Regions from separate parts of the Homo sapiens genome. Here region 1 is linked to region 2. The links come from fine-mapping of genetic effects on gene expression. Tissue or cell type: whole blood. Region 2 holds a variant in brackets; the other region holds the start of a gene. All regions are shown on one strand. Distances are between the middles of the regions.

What was found. PIP is the estimated chance that this variant, and not a neighbour inherited with it, causes the effect.
Region 1: MSANTD1 starts here. The variant in region 2 is fine-mapped to the expression of MSANTD1 in whole blood (TOPMed, PIP 0.94).

Annotation. Positions count from the first base shown.
Region 1 is chr4:3,245,010-3,252,853 of GRCh38, reverse strand. It overlaps MSANTD1 (Myb/SANT DNA binding domain containing 1), which reads right to left and starts at 3,695. Exons shown (of 3, transcript NM_001042690.2): 1 at 3,312-3,695. The coding sequence starts at 3,631. RefSeq lists an enhancer at 1,281-2,177 and a silencer at 6,142-6,317.
Region 2 is chr4:3,159,962-3,167,805 of GRCh38, reverse strand. HTT (huntingtin) reads right to left here. Exons shown (of 67, transcript NM_001388492.1): 29 at 7,414-7,524. Among named protein-coding and RNA genes, the nearest start is that of MSANTD1, 85 kb to the left of the region's middle. The variant T/G (reference allele first, on the strand shown) is at 3,586.

The sequences.
Region 1 (7,844 bases), 85 kb before region 2:
TTCATTTTGAAAGGTAGAGTAATAAGGTTTTATTGTAATAATAAGGTATTATAAGATATATAAATATAGTGATAATATTTTGTAATATAATAACTGTGTTGTTCGGGAGAGAATGCCTCAGGGAGCGACAGCCACTGGCGTTAGAGCACAGGCTTCAGTGTCCACAGCCCTGAGTCAGTATCTCATCTCCACACTTTGCTGTGTGACTTTGGGCAGGTTCATTCACCTCTCTGAGCCTCTATTTTTATATCAATGACATAGTGATGATCAAAGTAAGCCCCTCCCCCAGCTACAGGGCAGATTTAATAAAGCAAACAGCAGGCTGGGCTCCCATGCCATTCTTGGTTGAACCTACAGTCTGGGCAGGAGCCTAGATCCAGCGCTACAACCTGCAACCTGCCCAGAGGCCCTGGGGTGGGCCGGATGGGCCCCTTCCCACACTGCCTGATGCCTCATTACCACTGGGACCCCCAGCACCCACCTACTCCTGCAGACAGGTCCTGCCCTGAGAGGCTAAGTCCCCAGGCCTCCCCTGGGCCTCGGCTGCCCTCTGGGAGGTCAAGGCAGGAGACACAGGGCCCCATGGCGGCCAGACAGCTCTGGCCAGGCCAGGGAAGAAGCCACAAGGTGGGGGTGGGGCAGGGGCATCTCTGCCTCACTGGACCCAGTACCTCCTAAGGCCCAGTGCCCACTCCCCACTCTGCCTTTGAGTGACAGAGTGCCCCAAGGCCGGGCTCCAAACCCAACCTGTGCTCGGAGTGGGTGTCTCCTCTCTCCTACTCTTGCTACCTGCCAGGGTGTGGCCATTGGCCGTTGGAAACAATAAGCTGGATTCTGAATGAGGTGCCCCCAGCAAACAGGCACAGCCAGATGGTGAGCAGGGGATGCTGCCCAGGGTGGCACGTGGCTGTGAAGACACCAGCACAGAGCGTGTGAGGGCAGGCGCTGGGTGCCCATCCCTAACCTCTGCCCCAGGCTTCTCTCTCTGCCCTACTTGAGCCAGCCCACTCTTTGGAGAAACGAGAAAAGGCCTATTCTCAGTGTAGGAGGCCCCCAAACTGTACTTCAACAAACCATGCTCCACAGAACCAGCCACCCTCTCAGGCTTCTTCAGCCCAACAGCCTTAATATATAAAGAGTTCTTGTAAAAAAAAAAAAAAGAAAAAGAAAAAAAAAAGAAAAGCCTCTGCTATGGGGAGACTGCGGGTATAAAGAAAAAGGACAAAGATCGAGTCACCCAGCCACAGCTTCCTCTGCTAAGGACTATGTGGCCCTGGGCAAGTCCCTCTCATGCTCTGGGCCTCAGCTTCCCCCTCGGTGAACTAAGGCTGACTGTGGCAGCTCTGAGGGGCTGCGGTGTGGAAGTGCTTCATCAGCCATGACGTGCAGTGCACCGGTGCAGCCCTTGGCCAGCCCAGACTGCAGGGTCTGGAGTGGAGGCCCCCACTCTGCTGCACCCTCATCTCTCAGCCTCCAGGAATGGAGACAGAAACCCTCCCCTGGGACTCTGAAGAGGCTTTCAGCATAAATAATGAATAACCTGGCCAGACACCAACCAGAGCCAGCCAGGGAGGTGGTGCCCGTGAATTCCTGAGTCAGAGGGGAGCCTGCTGGAACAGTCGTGGCCACCTCCCACTGCCCTCTGCGTCCCTTCCTCACCAGGTGCCTGAGCAGGACTAGGAGGCCACGGGAACAGTGGGGCCGCGGGCAGCTGCCTGTGTCCACCGAACCTCTGAAGATACCCAGGCTCACACCTCAGCCCTCACGTCGCAAGCCAGCCGCTCAAACCCAACATCCGTCATGCTCAGCACCCTAGGTCCCGGCTTTGGGGCCTGCCTAGGGGCCTTTGGGCAGGGCCAGGCCCCGGACCCCTCCTTCAAGGCTCAGAAAAAATCAAATCAACGCAACTGAAAGCGGAGACCTCACAGGCTGGCGGTCTGTCCGGGGCCTTGCTGGGCCTCTTCCCCACTCCCACTAGGGCTGGGGACTGGGGGTTCCCTTCTGCTGTGCTGGAGGCCGGCTCCTCGCCTGAGGGGGGCAGTGGGGGTGGCCTCTCCCACAAGTGGCTCAGGTGCTCTCAGCCTCTCTGCCCCAGGCTCACCTGCCTGACCCGGAGGTGGAGCAGCTGAGTGAGGCCACTCCCATCCTGGAAGCTGACAGGCTCTCCGGCAGCCCCAGGCCCAGCCCTGTCCAGGCCGCCCACAGGGCCGGGTGCTCTCTGCTGCCATTCTCCCCCTGCAGCTTCCAGCTCTTGCTGCCACCCTCGCTCCGTGCAAGACCCTCCCCACACCCAAAACCATCACCCCACACCTGTGACCTTCACCGCACACCTATGACCTTCACACCCTGCAAGACCCTCACCGCACCTGTGACCTTGCCTGTGCCTGAGACCTTCACCCCACCATGACCCCTGCCCACCCGGGACCCTGTCCTAATGGGCTGGGGACCCACGCACTTTAAGATGCTGGGTGTGTGGGACCACACCTGTCCCCTCCTAGACGCCAACATCTCCCTGGCTGGGTGGTCCCCTCCGGCCTTCCCTGCAGGTTGCCAGGGCAGGAAGGGCCCACCTGCCATGTAGCAGGAGCAGAGGTGGGGCCAGGCCGGGAGCCCCCACGCTGGGAGTCCTGGGCCAGGGCAGGCCTCCACCTCTTTCTTCTTCGCACCGTAAGCCCCACCCATGCGCTGGCTGGTCCTGCACCTCACCTGGTGATTTCTGGAAATACCCCACCGTGACCCTAGGGCCAGCCCCAGTGGGGCTCACCGGCTCATGGCAGAGGCTCAGTGGATGCTCCAAGTCGCAGAGCACTGAGCCTCCTTCTCACTTGCAGTCTCAATTTCCCCAATGACGCAGTAGGCCCCTGAAACCCCTGCTGAGCTTGGGAGCTTGGTGGTGGGGAGGGCACTGGCAGCCGCCGCCTCCCTATGGGGGAGCAGGGTGTGAGGTCAGTGGGCACCACCATGAGTGTTGCTGCCTCCGAGGGACAGTGCCCAGACCGCCCATACGTCCTGGGAGCCATCCTGGCCTCTGCCCAGCACCAGCCCCACCCCTGCTACCCCTCAGCTCTTAGACTGGTTTCCTGCCCTTGCTGGGCCTCAGTTTCCCCACTTCCCCAATGGAAGGCTGCACACACGGTTTCCGTGGGCCCCGTCTCACCCCGTGGGGTTCTGCCCATACCCGGCCAGAGGAGACCGACAGGCAGGCCACGACCCACACATCGTCCCGACTCAGAGCTCCAAGAAAGTCAGGAGCGGCCCGCCACGCCCGGGCCCGCCCGTCCTGGTGGGGCCCACACTGCCCGCTCGCCCACCTGTACTGGAAGGTCATGTTGGTGATCTTGATCTTGATCTCCTCGCCCAGCCTGCGCTCGCCGGTCATCTCGAAGAGCTTGCTGGCCATCTTCTCGTACACCTTGGCGTTGCGCTTGGTCTGCTTGAGCTCGTCGAAGAACTCCTCCCAGACCAGCATGAGGCCGCGCATCTCGGCGTCCGTCCAGTTGCGGGCCCGCCGGTGCTTCTCCGCCTGGGGAGACACGAGGTAGCCGGGCCCCTCGGCCGCCGCCATGCCGGAGGCGCCTGTGGGGTGAGAGAGCGCGCTCAGCGAGGGCCCCGGCCCGGCCCCACGCACCATGGGCGGGAGGCGCCGCTCACGCTCGCTCGAAGGCAGCTCCACGCTCAAAATGGGGCCTACATCTGACAGGCAGGAATTTAGTTAAAAGCTTTTAAACGGGAAACGTCATTTTGATGTCACGTTTCCATAGCAACAGAGCAACTGCATAAGCTACAACAACAGAAACCTTTTAACTGAAAGCACAGGAATCAGGGCTGCACTGACGGGCCATCAATATTGCGGCGAGCGGGCCAGGCCCAAACCCAGCGGCCCGGCTCCCGGCCCTGCCTCTCACCGCCGCCCAGGCGGATCGGCCCCCAGTTCAGTGCCGCCCCGGCTCACGCAGGCCAAGAGGGGGCCTCGGGTGGGAACAGGCAAGGAGAAAGGGGGCAAAAGGTGGGAGAAACAGAGAGGACGAGCGACGAGGAGGCTGAGTCCCCCAACGCTGGCCACTGGCCCTGGTGGGGGTCCTGGGCTGTGGGACCCTTAAGCTCCCTCAGAAGGCCCCTGCCTTCTGAACTGGGGCTGGGCCCTGGGGCTCCTGGGTGTCCTGGTCCTGGGGTCCTGGGGCTGGGCCCTCACAAGAACCCCAAACCCCCACCCTTGGCTCCTTTTGCTTCTCTTGCTCCAGCCCCCAGGCGCCCTGGGCCTTAGGTCTGTGGACACTGGAAGCCCGGGTTGGTCAGAGCCAGGCCCTGCCCAGAGGTGCAGACACAGGGTACACAGACACGGGCCTCTGGCACCGGCCGGTGAGGACAGCAGTGATGGCAAAGGTGAGCTCTGTTTGAGACACAGGAGGGAATCAGCCCAGCAAGCCAGGGGGAGGCCACAGGGCACTCCTGGGAAGAGCCACGGGCATGGCAGGGCACAGTCTGGGTACGCAGGGAGCTGATGGGCAGCCAGATTCGGCACAGCGTGCGGAGACGGGGCTCGAGGCCCAGGCTGCGGGGCAGGCCCCTGTGGGGCTGAGGGACTGAGATGCCCCCAGGCTGGCCGGAGGACCACAGCCTGCCGAGAGCCCCAGATGCAGCGGAACCGGAACCGGAGCGGTGGCCTGGGGGTTCTGCCCGGAGAAGTGCCGCCCAAGGGCATCGGCACCCGAAACGTAACACATGCATGTCAGGCAGGGCTCTGTGGAGCCCACGGCACCTGTGCAGCATGGACTGTGCTGGGCGCGGTGCCCAGGCTAAATGCCACTGTGGTCAGCAGAGGGACAGCAGGCACCCCCCTGCCCTCCTCAGGCCTGACCAACTGCAGGAGACTCTCAGGTGTGGGCTGCCCCAAGAAGGGCAGCTGAGCCTGGAATGAGGAGGCATCTCGGCCTCTGCCCGCTGCCCCTGCTGTCCTCTGAGGCACCTTGGAGGTGGGACCGAGGCTCTCAGGGGAAGGACAGGGCAGGGGCATGGCGGGGGTGCCCAGCCCCACTGTGGGTGCCCAGCATAGGGAAGGCGAACTGGGGCTCCCTCTTGCCCGCAGTCAGGATAGGAAGTGTATGGGGAGGGCCCCAGGGATGTGTGAGGAACTCAGAGGGGTCTCTGCACCCCCTACACTGGGTCCCTGGTCAAGGCCTGGCCCCACCATCAGCCCCATGAGACTAGTCCAGTCCCTTCCATCTGGGCCTCAGGAGACATCATCCCTACTGCCTGGCACTGGGGCATCTCCACTCGACTAAGGTCAGCCCTCCGTGCTGGGGGCTGGCACAGAGAGCTCTGTGGAGTGCCTGCAGATGAAGGAGTGACTAGAAGGCCTACCTCCTCTAGGAAGCCCTGGCTCCTCAGGAACAGGGTTCGGCCCTCCCCGGTGAGGTCAGGGACCGGTCCGAATGCCCTTTCCGTAGCCATGACTCCAAGGGCAGAGGTGGGGCTGGCTCCCAGCATCTCTTGGCATCTCCCGGCACAAGGGGTAAGCAGAAAGGCATGGGGTCCCAGCAGTGGTTCTGGGTGCAGCTCTAGCGACTCAGCATGGACCTTAGTCATGTCCTCCCCACTAACCTGTTTCCTCACCTCCACAACAGGGGTAACAGGATCTGACTATATCACCCAGCATGGTGCTGGCTAAGGGGGCACAGCCCTCCCAGAACCCTGGGGAGGTCATGGGGCCTCTACGTGCCCTCTACCCCCTTCCACAAATCCACCTTGGAGCTGCTGGGGACAGCGTCAGGCCTACTGTCCTGGCTGAAGGGGCAGCTGCTGGCCAGTGGACACCACCACCACTGCCGGGGGCCCCCACCGGACGGCTCTAGAGGAGGCACCTACACCCCTGCCTGCCCGAGTTCCAGTGGGCGCAGGGAGGCAGGGCCCTGCCTGGCAGGGTGCCACCCCACACCCGCACCATCCTCCAGGCAGCATTCCCAGGGTAAAAGGCTCAACTCCAACCCTCTCTTCCCAGGCTCAGTGCACATGGGAGGCCCTGGACAGGGCAAGCTCCATGGCCTTTCCCGAGGCAGAGCCCTCACACTGACCTCCAATGTGAGGACAAGAACCAGGCAGGCAGCAGATGGCAGCACCAGGCACCCAGCTGCTCCTGCCTGGGAGGGTCCCCACATCTGTCCCCTGCTGGGGAGGGGCTCGTACCTTGGCAAAGCTGCATGGCCTGCTGGGACCCTCAGTCGCTACGGGGTCTCCTAGGGCCAGAGGCTGGTCAACCAGCAGCACCTGAGGGAGAAGGGGCAGGTCAGGCCTCGGCAGGAGCTGTCCCTGGTGCAGACCTGGGACATGGGCGGGGCCCTGCTGGGCTCAGGCTAGAAGCATGCTCCCTAGGCCTCCATCCCTTCTAAATAATGAGGCTGGGCCCAACTAGACTCTCATCCTGCTCAGCATTTCTGGGTGGATTTTCTGCCCTGCCTGACAGGCCAGCAGGACATGGGGACTGACCAAGGGTGGGGGCAGCAGGGCTCCCAAACACAGAAGCCCAGAGAGGAGGTGGGCGTCCCACTGAGGGGCACCTTCCAGGAGCAGCAGTGGTGAGCACAGCCTGTGCAGATGGGTGGGGATTTGGCAGCTGAGGAGTTCAGGGCTTGGGTGAAGGCAGAGAACCACGTGGAGTCCTGGGCCCAAATCACGGGGGGCCCCTGGGCAGGCTCCGGAGCCTGGACTTCCCCAGAGCAATTGGGGCCAGGAGGGGAAGGATGTGGCCAACACTGCCGCCGCTGGGGCAGGGTAGAAGGTTGGGCGGGTGGGCTGTCCAGAGGGTACAGGGGCCAGGATCCACCTCAGGACCAGCCTGTCCTAGCAGTTTTGGGGGTAGCTGCCTGACCAAGCATGGAGGGCAGGGGCCTGTGCACACAAGGGGAACCCAGACCCACAACTTCAGCCCTCTGCCTCCAGTGATGCCCTGACCCTGACCTCACAGGTCCACAGGGCCCACCCAGGGCCCAGACACCCCCGACCAGGACACCTGGAGGCCTGGTGTAGGGTGGAGAAAGCCGGCCACACTGGCGGGCCCCCCCAGAGGATGTGGCTGCAACAGGACTGGGTCCTCTGTGGCTCAAGCCACTTGCCCAAAAGGCAGCCAGGCTGCTGGGGCTGCAGAGCCTGGGGGACCCGCAAGCGATGTCCACATGGTTTCCCAAAAGAGGTCCTGGTGATGACACAAGGCCGGGTCCACCTCTACCCACAGACACTGTCACGGTGCTCATGGACCAGACTCGTGGGCTCGCGGAGGATGCCTTTCCTCAGGCCCCACTGCAGGCTTCCCTGAGGGGTGCACCCCACACCCCCAGGAACGGGGCTTCCTCTGTCCTCGGTTGGCTGTGTCACATCATGTAGAGGCAAGGCCCCCCTACCCAGTCCCTTCAGTGGCGGCTCCACCCGGTACTCACCTCACCCTGGCTACTTCCCTCATCTGACTTACAGTGCTCCACGCACCACGCAGGGGAAGCGACTTCCAGATCCCAACAAAGCCAGTAGCAGCCAAAATCAAATACCACCGAAGGCACAGGGCACAGCTCGGCAAGGGGACAGGGTGTGCTCTCCGATGAGGAAGAGGAAGGCTGTGTTGAGGGCAGCTCTGCCGTGGCATGGGGAGGGACTGCAAAGCCCACTCACGAGGGGTTCACCGCTGCTTCCCACTGGACCCCGGCCCCTCTTCTTTCTGAAATTACCAGCCATGCCAGGTGTGCTCAGTGTGCCAGGCTGTCCACACCTGGACCAGGGAGAAGGGGGTGCTCCATTTCTCTGAAGTGACCAGAATTTAGGTAGCTCTGAAAGGAGAGGCCACTGGGGGGCCCTGGAGC
Region 2 (7,844 bases):
CAGAGATGAGCTTATTATCTTTATGTACCTTTAAAAATATATACATACACACACAACCATATGGCTGATTTCAAGAATATAAAGATCAACTAACATCAATCTTCATTAAATTGTGACTTATTAATAATTTACTTTTATTATTTGGATAAGGCAGCATTTGATACATTCACTGACTGTAACTGAAAAACAGCCATTTCTATATATGACAGTCATAATAATAAGGTTAAAAAAAAACCCACATACAAAAAAGAAAATCTTACTATTTAAAGAATCCCAGTTAGATGATTTTTATTTCAGTATAATCTCACGTTCAAATTTAAAACATATAGTATTTTCCATTTTGCTAAAATGTGTTATACATGGAGACTGCTGGCCACTAAAAACTACTTATTAAGCACAGTGGTTTAGGGCAAAGAGAGGGAGATCTGAAAATATGGCTGGGCGTGGTGGCTGACACCTGTGATCCCAGCACTCTAGGAGGCTGAGGTGGGTGGATCACAAGGTCAGGAGTTCGAGACTAGCCTGGCCAATGTGGTGAAACCCCATCTCCACTAAAAATACAAAAAATTAGCCAGGCATGGTGGCAGGTGCCTGTAATCCCAGCTACTCCGGAGGCTGAGGTAGGAGAATCGCTTGAAACCAGGAGGCAAAGGTTGCAGTGGGCCGAGATTGTGCCGATGCACGTCAGCCTGGGCGACAGAGCAAGACTCCACCTCAAAAAACAAGGGATGCTTCCAAAATGGCCGAATAGGAACAGCTCCAGTCTACAGCTCCCAGTGAGATCGACACAGAAGACAGGTGATTTCTGCATTTCCAACTGAGGTACCTAGTTCATCTCACTGGGACTTGCTGGACAGTGGGTGCAGCCCACGGAGGGCAAGCCGAAGCAGGGCGGGGTGTTGCCTCACCTGGGAAGCACAAGGGGTCGGGGGACTTCCCTTTCCAAGCCAAAGGAAGCCATGAGTGACTGTACCTGAAGGAGCAGTACACTCCTGCCCAAATACTGCACTTTTCCCACAGTCTTCACAACCAGCAGACCAGGAGATTCTCTCCTGTGCCTGGCTCAGCGGGTCCCACGCCCATGGGGCCTTGCTCACTGCTAGCGCAGCACTCTGAAATCGACCTGGGATGCAGGAGCTTGGCTGGGGGAGGGGTGTCCACCACTGCTGAGGCTAGAGTAGGTGGTTCTATGCTCACAGTGTAAACAAAGCAGCAGGGAAGCTCGAACTGGGCAGAGCCCACTGCAGCTCAGCAAGGCCTACTGCCTCTCTAGATTCCACCTCTGGGGGAAGGGCACATCTGAACAAAAGGCAGCAGACAGCTTCTCCAGATTTAAACATACGTGCCTGACAGCTCTGAAGAGAGCAGTGGTTCTCCCGGTACGGCATTCAAGCTCCGATAATGAACAGACTGCCTCAAGTGGGTCCCTGACCCCCATGTAGCCTGACTGGGAGACACCTCCCAGTAGGGGCCAACAAACACCTCATACAGGCAGACACCTTCGTGCTCTGGGACGATGTTTCCAGAGGAAGGATCAGGCAGCAATATTTGCTGTTCTGCAGCCTCTGCTGGTGATGCCCAGGCAAACAGGGCCTGGAGTGGACCTCCAGCAAACTCCAACAGACCTGCAGCTGAGGGGCCTGTCTGTTAGAAGGAAAACTAACAAACAGAAAGGAATAGCATCAACATCAACAAAAAGGACACCCACACCAAAACCCCATCCGTAGGTCACCAACATCAAAGACCAAAGGTAGATAAAACCACAATGATGGGGAGAAACCATAGCAGAAAGGCTGAAAATTCCAAAAACCAGAACACCTCTTCTCCTCCAAAGGATCACAACTCCTCACCAGCAAGGGAACAAAACTGGATGGAGAATGAGTTTGATGAATTGACAGAAGTAGGCTTCAGAAGGTCGGTAATAACAAACTTCTCCGAGCTAAAGGAGCATGTTCTAACCCATCACAAGGAAGCTAAAAACCTTGAAAAAAATGTTAGACTAATGGCTAGAATAACCAGTGTAGAGAAGAGCTTAAATGACCTGATGGAGCTAAAAACCACAGAACGAGAATTTTGTGAAGTATACACAAGCTTCGACAGCCGATTCAATCAAGCAGAAGAAAGGATATCAGTGATTGAAGATCAAATTAATGAAATAAAGCGAGAAGACAAGATTAGAGAAAAAAGAGTGAAAAGAAATGAACCAAGCCTCCAAGAAATATGGGACTATGTGAAAAGACCAAATCTACGTTTGATTGGTGTACCTGAAAGTGATGGGGAGAATAGAACCAAGTTAGAAAACACTCTTCAGGATATTATCCAGGAGAACTTCCCCAACCTAGCAAGGCAGACCAACATTCAAATTCAGGAAATACAGAGAACACCACAAAGATACTCCTCGAGAAGAGCAACCCCAAGACACATAATCATCAGATCCACCAAGATTGAAATGAAGGAAAGGGCAGCCAGAGAGAAAGGTCGGGTTACCCACAAAGGGAAGCCCATCAGACTAACAGCAGATCTCTCTGCAGAAATCCTACAAGCCAGAAAAGAGTGGGAGCCAATATTCAACATTCTTTAAAAAAAGTATTTTCAACCCAGAATTTCATATCCAGCCAAACTAAGCTTCATAAGTGAACGAGAAATAAAATCCTTTACAGACAAGCAAATGCAGAGATTTTGTCACCACCAGGCCTGCCTTACAAGAGCTCCTGAAGGAAGCACTAAACATGGAAAGGAACAACCAGTACCAGCCACTGCAAAAACATGCCAAATTGTAAAGACTACTGACGCTATGAAGAAACTGCATCAGTTAACGGGCAAAATAACCAACTAGGATCATAATGACAGGATCAAATTCACACATAGCAATATTAACCTTAAATGTAAATGGGCTAAATGCCCCAATTAAAAGACACAGACTGGCAAATTGGATAAAGAGTCAAGACCCATTGGTGTGCTGTATTCAGGAGACCCATCTCACATGCAAAGACACTCATTGGCTCAAAATAAAGGGATGGAGGAAGATCTAACAAGCAAATGGAAAGCAAAAAAAAAGCAGGGATTGCAATCCTAGTCTCTGATAAAACAGACTTTAAATCAACAAAGTTCAAAGGAGACAAAGAAGGCCATTACATAATGGTAAAGGGATCAATTCAACAAGAAGAGCTAACTATCCTAAATATACACGCCCCCAATACAGGAGCACCCAGATTCATGAAGCAAGTTCTTAGAGACCTACAAAGAGACTCCCACCCGGTAATAGTGGGAGACTTTAACACCCCACTGTCAATATTAGGCAGATCAATGAGCCAGAAAATTAACAAGGATATCCAGGACTTGAACTCAGCACTGGACCAAGCGGACCTAATAGACATCTACAGAACTCTGCACCCCAAATCAACAGAACATACATTCTTCTCAGCACCACATTGCACTTATTCTAAAACTGACCACATAGTTGGAAGTAAAACACTCCTCAGCAAATGTAAAAGAACAGAAATCACAACAAACTGTCTGTCAGACCACAGTGCAATCAAATTAGAACTCAGGATTGAGAATCTCACTCAAAACCACACAACTACA[T/G]GGAAACTGAACAACCTGCTCTTGAATGACTACTGGGTAAATAACGAAATGAAGGCAGAAATAAAAATTTTCTTGGAAACCAATGAGAACGAAGACACAACATACCAGAATCTCTGGGACACATTTAAAGCAGTGTGTAGAGGGAAATTTATAGCACTAAATGCCCACAAGAGAAAGCAGAAAAGATCTAAAATTAACACCCTAACATCACAATTAAAAGAACTAGAAAAGCAAGAGCAAACAAATTCAAAAGCTAGCAGAAGACAAAAAATAACTAAGATCAGAGCAGAACTGAAGGAGATAGAGACACGAAAAAAAACCCTCCAAAAAAAATCAATGAATCCAGGTGCTGGTTTTTTGAAAAGATCAATAAAATAGGTAGACCGCTAGCAAGACTAATAAAGAAGAAAAGAGAGAAGAATCAAATAGACTCAATAAAAACGATAAAGGGGATATCACCACCGATCCCACAGAAATACAAACTACCATCAGAGAATACTATAAACATCTCTACCCAAATAAACTAGAAAATCTAGAAGAAATGGATAAATTCCTGGACACATACACCCTCCCAAGACTAAACCAGAAAAAAGCTGAATCTCTGAATAGACTGATAACAGGTTCTAAACTTGAGGCAATAGTTAATAGCCTACTAACCAAAAAAAGTCCAGGATGGATTCACAGCCGAATTCTACCAGAGGTACAAAGAGGAGATGGTACCATTCCTTCTGAAACTATTCCAATCAATAGAAAAAGAGAGAATCCTCCCTAACTCATTTTATGAGGCCAGCATCATCCTGATACCAAAGCCTGGCAGAGACACAACAAAAAAAGAGAATTTTAGGCCAATATCCCTGATGAACATCGATGTGAAAATCCTCAATAAAATACTGGCAAACTGAATCCAGCAGCACATCAAAAAGCTTATCCACCACAATCAAGTCAGCTTCATCCCTGGAATGCAAGGCTGGTTCAACATACGCAAATCAATAAACGTAATCCATCACATAAACAGAACCAACAACAAAAACCATATGATTATCTCAACAGATGCAGAAAAGGCCTTTGACAAAATTCAACAGCCTTTCATGCTAAAAACTCTCAATAAACTAGGTATCGATGGAACGTATCTCAACATAGTAAGAGCTATTTATGACAAACCCACAGCTAATATCATACTGAATGGGCAAAAACTGGAAGCATTCCCTTCGAAAACCGGCACAAGACAAGGATGCCCTCTCTCACCACTCCTATTCAACATAGTATTGGAAGTTCTGGCCAGCGCAATCAGGCAAGAGAAAGCAATAAAGGGTATTCAAATAGGAAGAGAGGAAGTAAAACTGTCCCTGTTTGCAGATGACATGATTGTATATTTAGAAAACCCTATTGGTTCAGCTCAAAATCTCCTTAAGCTGATTAGCAACTTCAGCAAAGTCTCAGGATACAAAATCAATGTGCAAAAATCACAAGCATTCCTATACACCAATAACAGACAAACAGAGAGCCAAATCATGAGTGAACTCCCATTCACAAATGCTACTAAGGGAATGAAACACCTAGGAAGACAACTTACAAGGGATGTGAAGGACCTCTTCAAGGAGAACTACAAACCACTGCTCAAGGAAATAAGAGAGGACACAAACAAATAGAAAAACATTCCATGTTCATGGATAGGACGAATCAATATCGTGAAAATGGCCTTGCTGCCCAAAGTAATTTATAGATTCAATGCTATCCCCCCATCAAGCTATCACTGACTTTCTTCACAGAATTGGAAAAAACTATTTTAAACTTCATATGGAACCAAAAAAGAGCCTGCATAGCCAAGACAATCCTGGGCTAGAAGAACAAAGCTGGAGGCATCACACTACCTGACTTCAAACTATACTACAACACTACAGTAACCAAAACTGCATGGTACTGGTACCAAAACAGATATATAGACCAATGGAACAGAACAGAGGCCTCAGAAATACCACCACACATCTACAATCATCTGATCTTTGACAAACCTGACACACATAAGCAATGGGGAAAAGATTCCCTATTTAATAAATGGTGTTGGGAAAACTGGCTAGCCACATGCAGAAAACTGAAACTGGACCCCTTCCTTATACCTTACACAAAAATCAACTCAAGATGGATCAAAGACTTAAACATAAGACCTAGGACCATAAAAATCCTAGAAGAAAACCTGGGCCATAACATTCAGGACATAGGCATAGGCAAAGACTTCATGTCTAAAACACCAAAAGCAATGGCAACAAAAGCCAAAATTGACAAACGGGATCTAATTAAACTAAAGAGCTTCTGCATAGCAAAAGAAACTATCATCAGAGTGAACAGGCAACCTACAGAATGGGATAAAATTTTTGCAATCTACCCATCTGACAAAAGATTAACATCCAGAATCTACAAAGAACTTAAACAAATTTACGAAAAAAAAGCAAACAACCCCATCAAAAAATGGACAAAGGATATGAACAGACACTTCGCAAAAGAAGACATTTATGCAGCCAACAGACATACGAAAAAATGCTCATCACCACTGGTCATTAGAGAAATGCAGATCAAAATCACAATGAGATACCATCTCACGCCAGTTAGGATGGCGATCGTTAAAAAGTCACGAAACAACAGATGCTGGAGAGGTTGTGGAAAAATAGGAACACTTTTACACTGTTGGTGGGAGTGTAAATTAGTTCAACTATTGTGGAAGACAGTCTGGCGATTCCTCAAAGGTCTAGAACTAGAAATACCATTTGACCCAGCAATCCCATTACTGGGCATATACCCAAAGGATTATAAATCATTCTACGATAAAGACACATGCACATGTATGTTTATTGTGGCACTAGTCACAATAGCAAAGACTTGGAACCAACCCGAATGTCCATCAATGATAGACTGGATTAAGAAAATGTGGCACATATACACCATGGAATACTATACAGCCATAAAAAAGGATGAGTTCATGTCCTTTGCAGGCACATGGATGATGCTGGAAACCATCATTCTCAGCAAACTATCACAAGATCAGAAAACCAAACACCGCATGTTCTCACTCACAAGTGGAAATTGAACAATGAGAACACATGGGCACAGGGAGGAGAACATCACACACCGGGGCCCATGGGGAGTGAGGGGACTGGGGGAGGGATAACATTAGGAGAAATACCTAATGTAGGTGATGGGTTGATGGGTGCAGCAAACCATCATGGCACGTGTATACCTATGTAACAAAACTGCACATTCTGCACATGTAACCCAGAACTTAAAGTATAATAAATAAATAAACAAATATAAATAAAACTGAAATTAGCCACCAAAAAAAAGAAAAAGAAAATCTACGAGACTTTTAACTCAGGCTCTGCCGCTGACTTTCTGTGAGATAAGTCAGAGACTATCTGTGTCAGAGAATATGACTGTCAACCCCAGCTCTGTTACTTCCTCAGGCACAAAAGAGCAAGTCACACCTCCCGCCCCGCCCCCTTACCCGTCTGTTTTGCCCCTTTCCACTTGAAAAGGTCAAGTTAAGAAATAAAGGACTCTACAAACACATTTTGAAACCCACTGATTTTCCAAACTAAACTGGGTCTAAGCTAATACATGATAACAGACAAAAATAGAATACAAATAGAAACTTCCCCCTAAACTTCATGGCTAAGGCAGAGTCAGACTTGGGTCCTGTGACGCAAGCACGTGGGGCAGGGAGGAGTCTCCCGGAGGCACCCTGGAGAACCAGGCTCCATCCTAGATGAACTCAGCCCAGAAGACGCACATCAAGTGTGCCAGCCACAACCCAAGGAGAAAAAACAAGACACAAACCTTCCCAATGTCCTGCAGTGTGGCCAGCTCTAGTATCTGAGAAAGAACATCCAAGGCTGAGCGGAGAAACCCTCCAAACTTTTCCGTGCTGTTCTGAAGATCCAGCGTGACCTTGGGAAGGTGAAGGAGAGAACACACGGTTACTGGCCCTGTCACGATCTCATAATGTACAACCAAAGACACAAACATCGACGGCTGCAGCAGATGCCTCCACTGTGCGGCGCCGTACACTCACCTTGCAGGGTGTGTCTGCGTGTTTGTTGTCAGCACTGGAAAAATATTTTGGAAAGAAATTCCTTTCAGATAGCTATACAAAAACTACTCTTTCAAAGGCTTTCAGGTTACACTGGCGCTACTGGAAGAAATAATTCCTAACTTTCTTTCATAATGAGAAAAAAGGGTTAAATGTCCATCATAATCAGTATCTGGTA